Homo sapiens: one gene and its partners. The protein of the gene in region 1 interacts with the protein of each later gene in a pairwise test. Each region holds a gene or a part of one and is shown on either strand. Other genes may lie near its edges.

The links. The genes of interacting proteins can lie anywhere in the genome.
Region 2: the proteins of BEGAIN (region 1) and FAM161A interact in binary tests that used the Homo sapiens proteins (3 or more experiments, as listed by UniProt).
Region 3: the proteins of BEGAIN (region 1) and TCHP interact in binary tests that used the Homo sapiens proteins (3 or more experiments, as listed by UniProt).
Region 4: the proteins of BEGAIN (region 1) and RASAL3 interact in binary tests that used the Homo sapiens proteins (3 or more experiments, as listed by UniProt).

Annotation. Positions count from the first base shown.
Region 1 is NC_000014.9:100,536,647-100,539,532, forward strand, and holds the end of BEGAIN (brain-enriched guanylate kinase-associated protein), read right to left. Parts: exon of another isoform or gene 2,670-2,886; coding exon 1,323-2,669; 3' UTR 501-1,322; downstream 1-500. UniProt on the Homo sapiens protein: May sustain the structure of the postsynaptic density (PSD).
Region 2 is NC_000002.12:61,837,061-61,840,560, forward strand, and holds part of FAM161A (protein FAM161A), read right to left. Parts: coding exon 2,361-3,500; intron 1,646-2,360; coding exon 1,478-1,645; exon of another isoform or gene 885-1,477; intron 1-884. UniProt on the Homo sapiens protein: Involved in ciliogenesis.
Region 3 is NC_000012.12:109,910,274-109,913,773, reverse strand, and holds part of TCHP (trichoplein keratin filament-binding protein), read right to left. Parts: intron 2,712-3,500; coding exon 2,539-2,711; intron 784-2,538; coding exon 702-783; intron 1-701. UniProt on the Homo sapiens protein: Tumor suppressor which has the ability to inhibit cell growth and be pro-apoptotic during cell stress. Inhibits cell growth in bladder and prostate cancer cells by a down-regulation of HSPB1 by inhibiting its phosphorylation.
Region 4 is NC_000019.10:15,458,045-15,461,544, forward strand, and holds part of RASAL3 (RAS protein activator like-3), read right to left. Parts: coding exon 3,427-3,500; intron 3,253-3,426; coding exon 3,174-3,252; intron 3,078-3,173; coding exon 3,016-3,077; intron 2,215-3,015; coding exon 2,159-2,214; intron 612-2,158; coding exon 485-611; intron 383-484; coding exon 284-382; intron 1-283. UniProt on the Homo sapiens protein: Functions as a Ras GTPase-activating protein. Plays an important role in the expansion and functions of natural killer T (NKT) cells in the liver by negatively regulating RAS activity and the down-stream ERK signaling pathway.

The sequences.
Region 1 (2,886 bases):
AAACTGCAGAAAGCCAAAGTCAAAGAGAAAATCTTAAAGAGCCGGGGAAAAGAAAGCAATTTTTTTTTTCTAACCAATGGAGCGGCTCCGGGACTGACAGCCAGTTCCCAATACCAACAGGAAGACAGAGCAGAGCGGCAGCATCCCGTGTGCCCGGGAAAAGGCCACCTGCCGACATTCCATCCGTGGCCCCAGTACATCTCAAGGAGCAGAAGCCAAGTCTGAGACACGAGGATTAGGGGCCAGGAAATCGGTGGGGCAGCGCGCAGGAGAATGGGATGAAAGAGCTGTTGTCTCCAGTGGGTTGGGAGAAGCAGGAGAATCCACACCCTAGATAGGAACTTGGATGGCGGGGTGGGGACGGGGTGTTATGGGGATGGGGTGTGAAGTGGGGTTAAGGGGCCCAACTCGGCTGCAGAGAGCAAGGCTGGGGAGGGACACCAGGGACCCCAGGTTCCCGAGACCAAAAGGCAGGAGGAGGAGAAACAGCCCAACCCAGATTCTTTCCACCGGTGTCTTTTATTAATGAATGCAAAATACAGTACTAACTGGCAGGGCATGCATCAGAGACAACAAGAATGCAAGCTACAGAAACCAGGAATGGAGGGCCTCCTCATGTCTGAGGTAGAGTAAGACGGTGTCAGGGGGCGGACCCGGGGGCGGAGATGAGCACCGGCCGCACTGGGGCATCATCCCGGCCCACCCGGGACGATGGGCCGTGGGAGGGCTCAGGGCGGTGTGGTGGCCACACTGCGAAGAATGGATTTTTAAAACACTTCATAGCCCCGAATTTGTTTCAGCTCCCTCTTCGTGGACACAACTTCAGGGCTCCCTTGTCACTGGCTTGCGGGGGTGGTCTCCCCACTTGCAGAGTCTGGTCTCCACAGGACACCGTCCTTCCCTTCCCTTCCAAGGGGCAGGCCCCACGCACCCTCGCCCAAAAAATAAAGGAGCTTTGTGTTGAAAACGCCAAGGCAGCCGTCCAGGGAGCTGGAGGCCAAGTGCGTTAAGAAAGACCCTTTTTCTCTATAAAAATAGTTTCGCTTTATAAAAGGGGGGATGCTCCTCTCACATGGGGGAAGGACGCGTGAAAAACGCTCTAAGTGGAGTTCCACGGGCCGGGGCCGGGTGGACACCGTGGTGTGGGGGACCCTCCCCTCAGGCCTACAGGGCTGGGGAGGAGAGGAGGTGCGGGGAGGAACAGACTCCTCGTTGTTGGCCGGGGCAGGGGAACAGCGGGGGCTGGGGAGAGGTGAGGCCGGCCCTTCTGGGGCACGTGGGCTGGCGGGGAGCGAACCACGGCCAGGCCTGCACGCAGGCGCTCAGTTGAGCAAGGTTCCGTAGAGCTGGGCCTTGGTGAGGCTGTCCTTGCGGCTCAGCCCCGAGCCACCAGTCCGCGGAAAGGCCTGCTGGGGGCTGAGGCGGGCGGCAGGATGCATTTCCGGGGAGGCCTCCATGGAGCTCGGCTCCAAGGAGTCCCTGGAACCCTGCTCGGGCTCAGGGCTGCTGGCGGTCCCACACAGCTGCACCCCGAGCCTGTCCCCGTCCCCCCCCTCGCTGGGTGCATAGCCGGGCAGTGGGTCAGCCGAGCGGCCGGGACTGAGGCTCAGGTCGCCGCCCGCCCGCAGGAAGCAGGGCTCTGCCAGGTGGCCCTGGGAGAGGTCGTCCCCCTCGGAGAAGCTGTCGGCCTTGTAGCTGGCGTAGAGCGGGCTGGCGCGGCCGTCGGCCTTCTTGCCCGGGCTGCCCCCGGCCCCGCCGTAGTAGCGTTCAGAGAAGCTGCAGGGTGAGGCGCGGCCGGCAGCGCTCACGGGGTAGGAGTAGGCGCCGATGTCCTCCACGCTCAGGGGACGCCACTGGCCCCTCATGTCCTCCCCGGGGAGCCGGGCGGTCCCCGGCTTGGCCCGCAGGCTCCACAGGTTTGGGGGCATCAGGGCCTGCTGGGGACCCGGAGAGGCCGGGAAGCGGAAGGTCTCGGCCGGGTACGGTGACATGGTCCGCCCGAAGCCTGGGGCCACTTCGGCCTCCAGCGGGGCCGCCACCGCGGCCGTGGCCTTGGCAAAGCGAGGGCTGCCCTCGTAGGTGGTGGCGGGTGGCTTGCGGTCGAAGAGCTCGTCGCGGCTGTTCAGGTAGATGGCCTGCTGCGACGCGGTCAGCGTGCTGGCCTGCGCGTGCTCCTTCTCCTCCGACGTGGCGCTGAAGCTGGAGTAGGAGCTGGACGTGGGCAGTGAGCCTGCGTAGCTGGGGAAGGCCTCATGCTGGAAGCCCGCCGGGAAGGCCGCCGCCTCGGCCTCCTCCTCCTCCTCGGCCGCGCTGTCAGTGGAGTTCTGGGCCCGCAGGAAGCCCACGTCGGTCACGGGCGCGTCCACGCTAGGCCGCCGGTCTCGCCGCCGCTCCTCCGGGCAGTAGAGGGCTGTGTCACTGCAGTAGATGTCTCCCTTGTAGGGGGGCCGCGGGCCTGGTTTCTCCACCCCGTCGCAGAAGGCCAGGTCGCGGGCGGAGGCATCGGACAGGCGGGAGGACAGGCTGGCGGGGTCCGGCTTCTCCAGCACCTTGGCAATGACGCAGGTGGGGACGCTGTCGGCGTAGGCCGGGTGGCAGAGCGGGGATGGCAGGCTGCAGCCGTGCTTCTCCATGTGCAGGCTCACGCGCTCCTGGAAATCCGAGGGCAGCTGGAACGGGTGCGAGGAGGGGGACGGCGGGTACAGGGTCACTGTTAGCATGGCAGCCCAGCCCTGGCCCTGAAGCTGAGGACTGATGTTAGCCATGACCGACAGGCAGACAGACGAACGGGGGCCTCCCGGCTTCTCAAATCACACCAGGGGGAGCCTGGATCCAGGACGCTGTACTGAACAAGCTCCCAGGGGTGTGGGTGCTGTGACTGCCTGG
Region 2 (3,500 bases), on another chromosome or scaffold:
TCTCATTATGTTTACCAGGCTGGTCTCAAACTCCTGGGCTCAAGCAATCTTCCTGCCTTGTACTCCTGAGGTGTTGGGATTACAGATGTGAGCCATGGCATCCAGCCTTTGCTGTTATTTTTTTCCCCTAAATAAGATCTCCTACAGGTTAGTGGCAAAGTTAATTCAATGGGAGCAAGTCAAAGGAGAAGTAAAGAGCATGGGAATACAACATAAAGAGAAACAGGAACCAAAATATATAAATTTACCGTAAGTGTTCTCACTGTTTGAGCAAGATCCTATAATAAATTAAACTACACTATTTTCTCTATGTAAGATATAATTGCTACCAAGATAAATAAGATTAATGGATTGGGGAAAATAATTATACTTTTAAATGATAATTAGGCTTAATTATACACAAGTTGGTGTTATGAAAAAGCTATTGTCCAGGCACGGTGGCTCACGCCTGTAATCCCAGCACTTTGGGAGGCCAAGGTAGGCAGATCACCTGAGGTCAGGAGTTTGAGACCAGCTTGGCCAACATGGCAAAACCTCATCTCTACCAAAAATACAAAAATTAGCTAGGCGTGGTGGTGAGCACCTGTAATCCCAGCTACTCTGTAAGCTGAGGCAGGAGAATCGCTTGAACTCGGGATCCAGCCTAGGTGACAGAGCGAGACTCTGTCTCAAAAAAATAAATAAATAAAAAATAAAAAGCTATTAATAGTTTACTTCCTAAGGGTAAGTAATCTATTTCTAAGAAACATTATGCTCACGTTCATCAAATTAAGCTCCCTTTATCAATGGATTAAAGCTAAATTATAAAAGAATACTCATTGTAATTAAAAGCACATATGCATATTTAGAAATCAGATTAAAAAGTAATAAATCACATTACTTACCTGGCTTTGAGGGAGATAGTTTCCTACTTAAACATCAACATTTTTATGTGCAACATCTGGAACACTGGTTTTCAAACTTTGTACTGCAAAATTCTAGTGAAGGGGTTCTAAGAATTCCGTGAATATTTTTATATTGAAACTAACAAAATGCAACACATACTACTAAACATTAACATATGTGCTAATGAACACATCACATAACCGATGTTTAACGTGTTAATTTGTGCTATCAGATTTCATCCAAACCTTAGAACAAAGCTCTTTGATATATCTGTTTACTGCAATCAAAAATAATATAAAGAACAAGATCAGATATTGGTATAAGATTATAACCATTAACTAAGGCCACAATAGAAAATGTCTGTATTCATCAACATAGCTTCATGGTTCTCACCATAAAGGTGAGTTTATATGTTGGTTCTCACCATGAGGTGAGTGTGTGTGCACTGAACACAAGTAACTGATGACAATTTAAATCCATAAGCTAAAACACTAATGCTATTTTCAATCTGCTCATATTTTACTATCTACTGATTAAAAAAAAAAGAGTTTGAAAACCAGTGGTCTGGAGATTCAAGATTTTTTCATGATACCTGAGACATTTTACTCTGGATTTAGATATTTGAGCTAAACTTTGATGTGAGTCATAAGCCTTAGCCCGGGTTGTCAGGAGTTTCTGCAATTCTTTCATTCTTTGCTTCTGTTTAGTTAGGATCCGATTTCTCTCTTCTTCCAACATTTTCTTTTCCTCAAGTGATCTCCTGAGGGTAACAAACTAAGGCTTAATCCACTTTAAGCCAATCAGAATGTTGTTTAGCAAAGATTTAACATGGGATAATTTGAATTTTGATAATTCAAAATTTGAAAAAAGGTAACCTTTTGAAAAGGATCTGACCTGTAAAACTAGAAATATTTATTTATTTATTTATTTATTTATTTATTTATTTATTTTTTTTGAGATGGAGTCTCGCTCTGTCGCCCAGGCTGGAGTGCCATGGCGTGATCTCGGCTCACTGCAACCTCTGCCTCCTGGATTCAAGCGATTCTCCTGCCTCAGCCTCCTGAGTAGCTGGGATTACAGGCACCCGCCACCACGCCCAGCTAATTTTTTGTATTTTTAGTAGAGATGGGGGTTTCATTATCTCGGCCAGGGTGGTCTTGAACTCCTGACCTTGTGATCCACCTGCCTCGACCTCCCAAAGCACTGGGATTACAGGTGTAAGCCACTGTGCCCAGCCAGGTAAAACTAGAAATCTTAAGACTATTATTTTCTAATCCCCCAAAATTTATAAATGAAAAATATATTCATTTCTTAGAATACCCTCTGACAAAATATCATATATTATATAGTAAAATATCTTATAGATACAATAATAATTTCTAAGTATTTTCAAATTTACCAACATAAACTCCACAGAGCTGCATACACTCATCTGGCAACCATGAGTCAGTCAGTACTGCGTCCTACTTACTTACCTTACGGCTTGTTCTCGTCCTCTGGAAGATACCGTGGGCACGGGAGGGTTGCAGTTACAAGGCACAGGGTTTACACCTGCACATCTTACTGGTGACTTACGCCTTGGAGACAAATAAGGCCAACGTGTTTCTTTTAAATTTTCTTCATCTGCTTCGATGTCTGCCAAAATTTTTTCTCTTTTAATAGATGCATGTGGAGATGCATGAAGATCAAATGGTTTACACACTGTTAAGAGTTTTGGAGACTTGTGTTCTGAGAGGTGTTTCTGGTATCTCTCAGGAAGGTCCTCAAAATCAGGAGTTGGGCACCTAACCTTGTGTTTACACTTCAACTTTACAGCCTGTTCAGGACACCTGGGGTTCCTGCATCCACAAGCTGACCTACAAGGCAGAGGAGATGAGTTCTGTAAATGCTCCTGGGCTCTCAGCTGTGTCCTAAGGTTTCGATAGAGCTCTTCTTCTTTTAACTTGTCATTGGTAGTTGAACCATAAGTAGATCGAGGAATGGGTCTGGCTTTAAATCGATTTGTTTTCTTTTTATACTTAAGAAAGTCTCTCAGCTGCTTTTCCCGGGCTGCTCGCTTCTGTTCCTCCCTTGCTATAAATTTAAATGGCTTTTGTGAGGCCAAAAGAGCTTCTTTGCTTTTCTCCTTCAGAGACCTTCTCCGTTCTTCTTTTTGCTTGACTAAATCATGGTAAAGGGGGAGAAAGACAGATGCAGGAACTGGATTGGCTCGGAATTTCTTCTTATACTCTGGATCCTCTTCTTGTTTTTTGAGCGCTTTATGTACCATTTCGATATCTGATTTAGATTTCATGGACTCTTCTTTTTTCTTCTGTTCTCTTATCATCATTTGAAAAGGCTCCGGTACTGTAATTGTGGGCACCCATTCTTTTCGTTTCTTCCTTCTTTTTTCAGCTGCATGGAAGCCAGTATCTTTACAGCGAATATAATCCTCAACACAAAAGTCTGTCCACATATTGTTGATGAGCTCCTTAGCATAGGTCATCATTCTGTTTTTCCTAGGATACTCTTTTTCTAGGTTGGGTAACTCCTCTTCAGAGGAGGACACATACAAGGAGGAAGACTGGCCTAAATCAGGCTCTGAAAATGATGTCATTAATGAGACAGGGTGATAG
Region 3 (3,500 bases), on another chromosome or scaffold:
AAAATACAGCATACTACCAGACACAACGTAGAGTTTCTCATTTGAAACCACTTTACAACAGCTTTCAGCCCATGGGTAACACTCTCTCTTCTCCTCCCAGATTTCTCTGCGGTTGGGGTATATCTTCCACGCACAGTGTACACACTGACCAGGAAAGCAGTTATGTCCTCCAGGTCACGGCTGTCATCTACCCCGAGGGGGGAAACGTGTGGGAAGAGCCTCAGGCACCAAGAGGCTCTCTGCAGCGTTTCTCAGAATGGCTTCCAATTAGAACAACACAGCACACCCATAAGAGGGAATGGAAAGGCAGCGGGTGACAGAGGACAGTCCGTGATACAGCCCCTGACATGCCGTTTATAAAGATGTAACAGCATGTCACAACGCTTGAAGCCAAATAGCACAAGACAGTAAGAAATACATGTAGAAAAAATGTCAGGCATAGAAACAGAAGAGCAGACAGAAGCAGCAGCTACGGCTGCATACAGGATGGGCTCTGGGGGACTTTTTTCCATTTCTACTTCCTGTACTTCTGAATTCTTTTCTACTAAGCTCATATTACTTTTTCAATGATTTTTAAAGCCCACTTAAAATGACCAGAGAAGACTCTGTTCCCAGAGCATCTGGCAGGGTGACTGACCATGGACTTCCAGACACCTGCCCAAGACCCAACAGCCGGTCCACATCGCCGCAGCTGGGATTACCTCGCTCATCAGTCTGTCCCGTGCGCTGCGCTCTCGGGCCCACTCTGCCTCTCTCTTTTCCCACATCTCCTTGGCCTCCTCCCTGGGCAAACACAAAAGGGATGACAGCAGGCTCCTCCCCGCCCTGGCAGGAAGCGAGCTACGGAACAGACAGGGCTGCAGGGCACATGGCTTCTGCAGGACCACACTGCAGATAAACATCCACATGCACTTTGAAAAGATTACAATTAAGGACAGCATCCACGGAAAGTACTGTTGGAAGTTTTTCATTTTTTTTATTTTTGAGATGGGTCTCGCTCTGTTGCCCAGGCTAGAGTGCAGTGGTGCGATCTCGGCTCACTGCAACCTCCACCTCCCAGGTTCAATCGATTCTAGTACCTCAGTCTCCTGAGTAGCTGGGATTACAGGCATGTGCCACCATGTCTGGCCAATTACTGTATTTTTAGTAGAGACAGGGTTTCACCATGTTGGTCAGGCTGGTCTTGAACTCCTGATCTCAAGTGATCTACCTGCTTTGGCCTCCCAAAGTGCTGGGATTACAAGCGTGAGCCACCGTGCCTGGCCCTGTTGGAAGTATTTTAAGTTACCCTTTTAATACCCCATCTCCTTATAAAAAGGAATTGGGATGACTTACACCGTGGCTGTTTAACACAGAGATGAATGAAACCATCAGAACATGGAGAGGAGGGCGCTGCCTGTGCCTGAACCCTGCCACCGCATGCCTGTGTCACTGATAGCTCACCCTGGACGGAGTGACCTCTTCAAGTCTCCGGGTCTCACAAGCCACCACTTGGCTGGATGTCAGGACTCAGTAAGATGAGGCCTGTAAAGCACCCGGCACAGTGTCCAGCATGCAGTAAGTGCTCAATGTATGCTACTTATTATTTGATGATTTCAATCTACTAGTTTAGTCTTTAGGACCCAAACTCAGTTTTATAGATGTAAGCAGCATTCAACATCTCTATAATAACTTCCTTCTGGCTGGGCATAGTGGCTCACGCCTGTAATCCCAGCACTTTGGGAGGCCAACGCTGGCGGATCACAAGGTCAGGAGTTCAAGACCAGCCTGGCCAAGATGGTGAAACCCCATCTCTACTAAAAATACAAAAAGTAGCCGGGTGTGGTGGCGGGCGCCTGTAATCCCAGCTACTCGGGAGGCTGAGGCAGAGAATTACTTGAACCCAGGAGGCAGAGATTGCAGTCAGCCGAGATCATGCCACTGCACTCCAGCCTGGGTGACAGAGCAAGACTCTATCTCAAAAAAAAAAAAATAATTTCCTTCTAAACCTCTAAGATTTCAGATGAACACATCGTTACTCTAAACCTTAATGATTTCCACCTCAGATAATACAAGGGAAACACCCCCAGAGGCCAGGTCCATTATGAAGATGTGCTCCTCAGGAATGATGGACAACATACACAGCTATCTCTTCTTCTTCTTTTTTTTTTTTTTTTTTTTTTGAGACAGAGTCTCGTTCTGTCACCCAGGCTGGAGTGCAGTGGTGTAGTCATGGCTAATCGGAGCCCCAACCTCCTGGGCTCAAGTGATCCTCCCACTTAGCCTCCCGAGTAGTTGGAACTACAGGTATGAACAACCACGCCTGGCCAATTTGTGTATTTTTGGTAGAGCCTGGAGTTTTGCCATGTTGCCCAGGCTGATCTCAAATTCCTAGGCTCAAGCGATCCACCTGCCTCGGCCTCTCAAAGTGCTAGGATTACAGGTGTGAGCCTCCACGCCCAGCCAATAGATATTTCAGTAACAGGTGACCCATGGGGCATTTCAAGGTATCAGAGTTGAGGCCAGGAGCATCCAGCCCAGTCAGCAGCTGCCACTCACCTCAGCAGCATCTGCAGCTCTGCCTCCCGCGCCCGCTCCAGCTGCAGCTGCTCCTCAATGGCCTGCTTCATCCAGGCCACATCGGCCATGACCTGCTCCCGCCTGGCCAGGTGGAGGCGCTGGCTCTCGTCCTCCTTCTCGAGGAGGGCCTGCAGGATCCGCCTGTCTGCCTCCTAGAGGAAGCAGAGGGCGGCACGTGGCTGGGCTGGACAGAGTCCTTCTGCAATGAGAGCCTACAGAGGGGCCTGCCCTCCCTTTCCTTTCTACATAGACATTCGTGATTCTACACAGTGTTCTCAAGACAGAGATGGGAAGATCCTGGATTATTTCTGGAACAGACTGGGGATAATCACGAGGGGTGGTTCAGACACTGCACAGGCCTAGGAGCTTCTCTCTGGCTAAAGGGAGACCCAGCCACCACCACATGCCCTCGGATACACCTGGTTGCACAACTTTTTGGAATACAACTTGGCAAAAATCCCACTTATAAGAACAAAGACCACAGTGACACAAAAGTGCAAAACACTCGTTGCAGCTTTTAGGTAAGAGGGAAAAACCAGAAACAACCAAAATGCTCCTTGGTGGGGAATTAGCTACTATGTACATCAACATAATGGAAGCATTAAAATAATGCAGGAGGCTGGGCACTGGGGCTAATGCATGCAATCCCAGCACTTTGGGAGGCTGAGGTGGGAGGATCACTTGGGCCTAGGAGTTCAAGACCAGCCTGGGCAATGTAGCAAGACCCCATCTCTACAAAGCATTGTGATGTACACCTATGGTCCCAGCTACTCGAGAGGCTGAGGTGGGAGGATGGCTTGAGCCTGGCAGGTTGAGGCTGCAGTGAGCCGTGATTGCGCCATTGCAATCCAGCCTGGACAACAGAGCAAGACCCCATAAAAAACAGCTGCACACCAGGACCAACCATGCCACTGTGCCCCATGTCCTGCCCTGACCGCAGT
Region 4 (3,500 bases), on another chromosome or scaffold:
CTCCAGGGCATACAAGAGTAGTACTGGAGTAAAGACTTCGCGATTGCCTGGCAGGCAGGGCTTTGGGTGCATATGGGGCCGGGAGTGGACAGAAGGGGCGGGTCTGATATTCCCGGGGCTGGTAATAGATGGAAGGGGAGTCTTGGAGCCGTTGCAACGATGCAGGCGGGGCAGGTGTGTTGGGGGCGCGGGTTATGGAGCGAGCTGGCTTTGGGTAGAGTGGAAGGGGCGGGCCAGGCCTGTGGGCGGGGTCTCCGTGTCCCGCTTTTCTGAGGGCAATGACCTGGGTGGGCTGGAATTGGCGACGAAGGTCCTCGATCCAGCGGTCTCTCTCAGCGGCCGAGCGACAAGAGAAGCAGCGGCTTCCACCCGTCCAGGTTACCTGTTGGGATGGAGAATCCAACGGTGTGATCGAGGCCAAGGGTGAAGCCAAAGGGTGGGAGGTGGGACTGAGGTGGAATCGAGGTGGACTGTCTACACTTACCTGAAAGCAGTGGGGCTCCCCCAGGAGGCTGGGGTGCAGTGGCCAGATCCGCACATCCCGCTCGGCACCCAGGTCCAGTTCAGAGAGTGTGGCCAGCGACTCCCTAGAGCCCAGAGCACTGGGGGGTCTGGGAAGGGGGTGGGTGAGCACACCGTCATTCCTGCCTCTTCCCCATCCCCCATAGCCTGAAGGGTAGAGGAAGGCCAGGAAGGACTTCAACCCAATTCGGATCCCGTTTCTCCCCCGTGCCCCCCCCACCCCCCGCCATGGCACCTCCTTGCTTTTAGGATAAACTCAACTCCTGGTGACCTACATGACCAAGCTGGGTCCAGATGTTGTCACCTCATCTCCCTCCACCTAATCCATCACTTTCTGAGCTCCAGCCTCCCTGGCCTTGTTTTATTTTATCCTATTTATTTATTTATTTATTTATTTGAGACAGAGTCTTGTTTAGTGCGGTGGCTGGATCTCAGCTCACTGCAACCTCTGCCTTCCAGGTTCAAGTGATTTTCCTTCCTCAGCCTCCCAAGTAGCTGGGATCACAGGTGCCCACCACCATGCCTGGCTAATTTTCTAATTTTTATATTTTTAGTAGAGGTGGGGTTTCACCATGTTGGCCAGGCTGGTCTTGAACTCCTGATCCCAAGTGATCCACCCGCCTCAGCCTCACCAAAGTGTGGGATTACAGGTGTGAGCCACCGTGCCCAGCCCTATTTATTTATTTATTTATTTATTGAGATGGAGTCTTGCCCTTTTGCCCAGGCAGGAGTGCAGTGGCACAATCTTGGCTCACTGCAATGTCCACCTCCCAGGTTTAAGCGATTCTTCTGCCTCAGCCTCCTGAGTAACTGGGATTACAGGCATTCGCCACCATGCCTGGCTAATTTTGTATTTTAAGTAGAGATGGGATTTCACCACGTTGGCCAGGCTGGTCTTGAACTCCTGACCTCAAATGTTCCACCTGCCTCTGCCTCCCAAACTGTGGGATTACAGGTGTGAGCCACCGCACCCAGCCCTATTTATTTTTGAGACACAATCTTGCTCTGTTGCCCAGGCTGGAGTGCAGTGGCATGATCTCTGTGCACTGCAGCCTCAACTTCCCAGGCTCAAGCAATCCTCCCACTCAGCCTCCCCAGTAGGTGGGACTACAGGTGCCCGCCACCATGCCTAGCTAATTTTTGTATTTTTTGTAGAAATGGGGTCTCACTATGTTGCCCAGGCTGGTCTCGAACTCCTAGACTCAAGCAGTCTGCCCACTTTGGCCTCCCAAAGTGCTGGGAGCCACTTCACCCAGCCCTCTTGGCCTTGTTTTAGTTGCTTCTTTCGGCCTCTTGGCCTTTGCACTTGTTGTTCCTTCTGCCTGGAATGCTTTTTCCACCCCCCTGTTGGCCTAGTTAACTTCCATCCACCCTTCAGATCTCAGCTCAAGGGTACCTTCCCTAACCCTCCCAGACCAGTTGATTGACTTAGCTCCCATTTTAGAGTTATTGTGTCAGACTTTGCCCCCACCCTGGCTCTGTGCTAGATCATTCAATGTCCCCAGCATCAACTGATGTGGGGCAGAACACAGAGGCCACAGGGGGTGTTTGGTGTAGATTGGAATGATATGCAGGAGGTGGAGGAGGAGGGGCCAGTGTTGAACCCCAGCCCCTCCAGCCTCTCATACACCCTTACCCATCCCGGGGCTCCAACCTGGCCTTTTTCTTCTCTTTCAGCCTCTTGAGCAACCCCTGTGGGGAAGGGAATGTCAGCTGGACAGAAATCTGTGCTCCTTCCTCAGCTCCTTCCCTCCCAAGACATCCCAGAGGATCTACTGGTCTTGGAGGACCAACACCAAGCTCAGGCTGTATTAGCAGGAATAATAAGAGCAATCAGCAGCTCCTAATTCTTTGTTCATTTGTTTTTTTAAGACAGGGTCTCGTGCTGTCGCCCAGGCTGGAGTACAGTGGTGCGATCATGGCTCACTGCAGCCTCAAATTTCTGGGCTCAAGTGATCCTCTTGCCTCAGCTGGGACTACAGGTGAATGTTACCATGTAGAATTGGGGACTTGCTATGTTGCCCAGGCTGGTCTTGAACTCCTGGTCTCAAGCAATCCTTCTGCTTCAGCCTCCCAAAATGTTGGGATTACAGGTGTGAACCACTGTGCCTGGCCCAAACTCCCATTTGTAAAGCATCAATCATATATTCTCCTATACTATTCATTTATTTATTTAAGAGATGAAGTCTCCCCATGTTGCTTAGGCTGGTGTTGAACTCCTGGCCTCAAGCAGTGCTCTCTGCTCAGCCTCCCGAGTAGCTTGGACTATAGCTGCGCACTGCCCTGCCTGGCTCCTGCACTCTCTATTGGCTTCCCATAAACAACCCCTAGAGAAAGGTTATTTCATTAGCTTCATTTGACAGACTGGGACTCTGAGGCCCAAAGAGGGTCAGCAACCTGCTCCAGATCACCCAGCAAGAGTGCCCTTTCAGCTTTGAGGGTCCGAGAGTCTTGGCTCTCCCCTCTACCTCCCACCTTCACTGGCTGCCTTACCCGAACGTTGTGGACCTGGTTGGGACCAGCAGTCTCCGGTTCTGTTTTTCCAGGCATCCGATCTGTGGGTCGTTATGGGTGGCAGGTTGGGGGGTTGGATTCTGCCCCACTTTTAGAGCCTCCCAAATGCCCCAGGCCTTTCCACCCCTCAAGCTTACCTGGATCCCTGAAGTTCCCCATGGCCACGTGGATGCTGCCCTCGGAGCTAGCACTTCCCACCCGGGGCCTTCGAGGACCCTGTTCTCCCGCAGGAGTGGGTAGTCAGAGAGGGGAGGCAGGCAGGCAGGCAGGCAGGCAGACCGAGGGAGAGGCAGACACCTTCCCATTATCCTCCCTCCAGCCCCTGCCTCTGTTCTGCCCTCCTCCTTTTTCTTTCTTCCCTCCTCCCCTTTCCCAGGTGCCCCCTCTCACCTCCTCCTCTCCTCCAAGCAGCACCAGCTTCCCATCAAGCAGGGTGAAGCCCCCAATGTCCCAGACAGGCACGT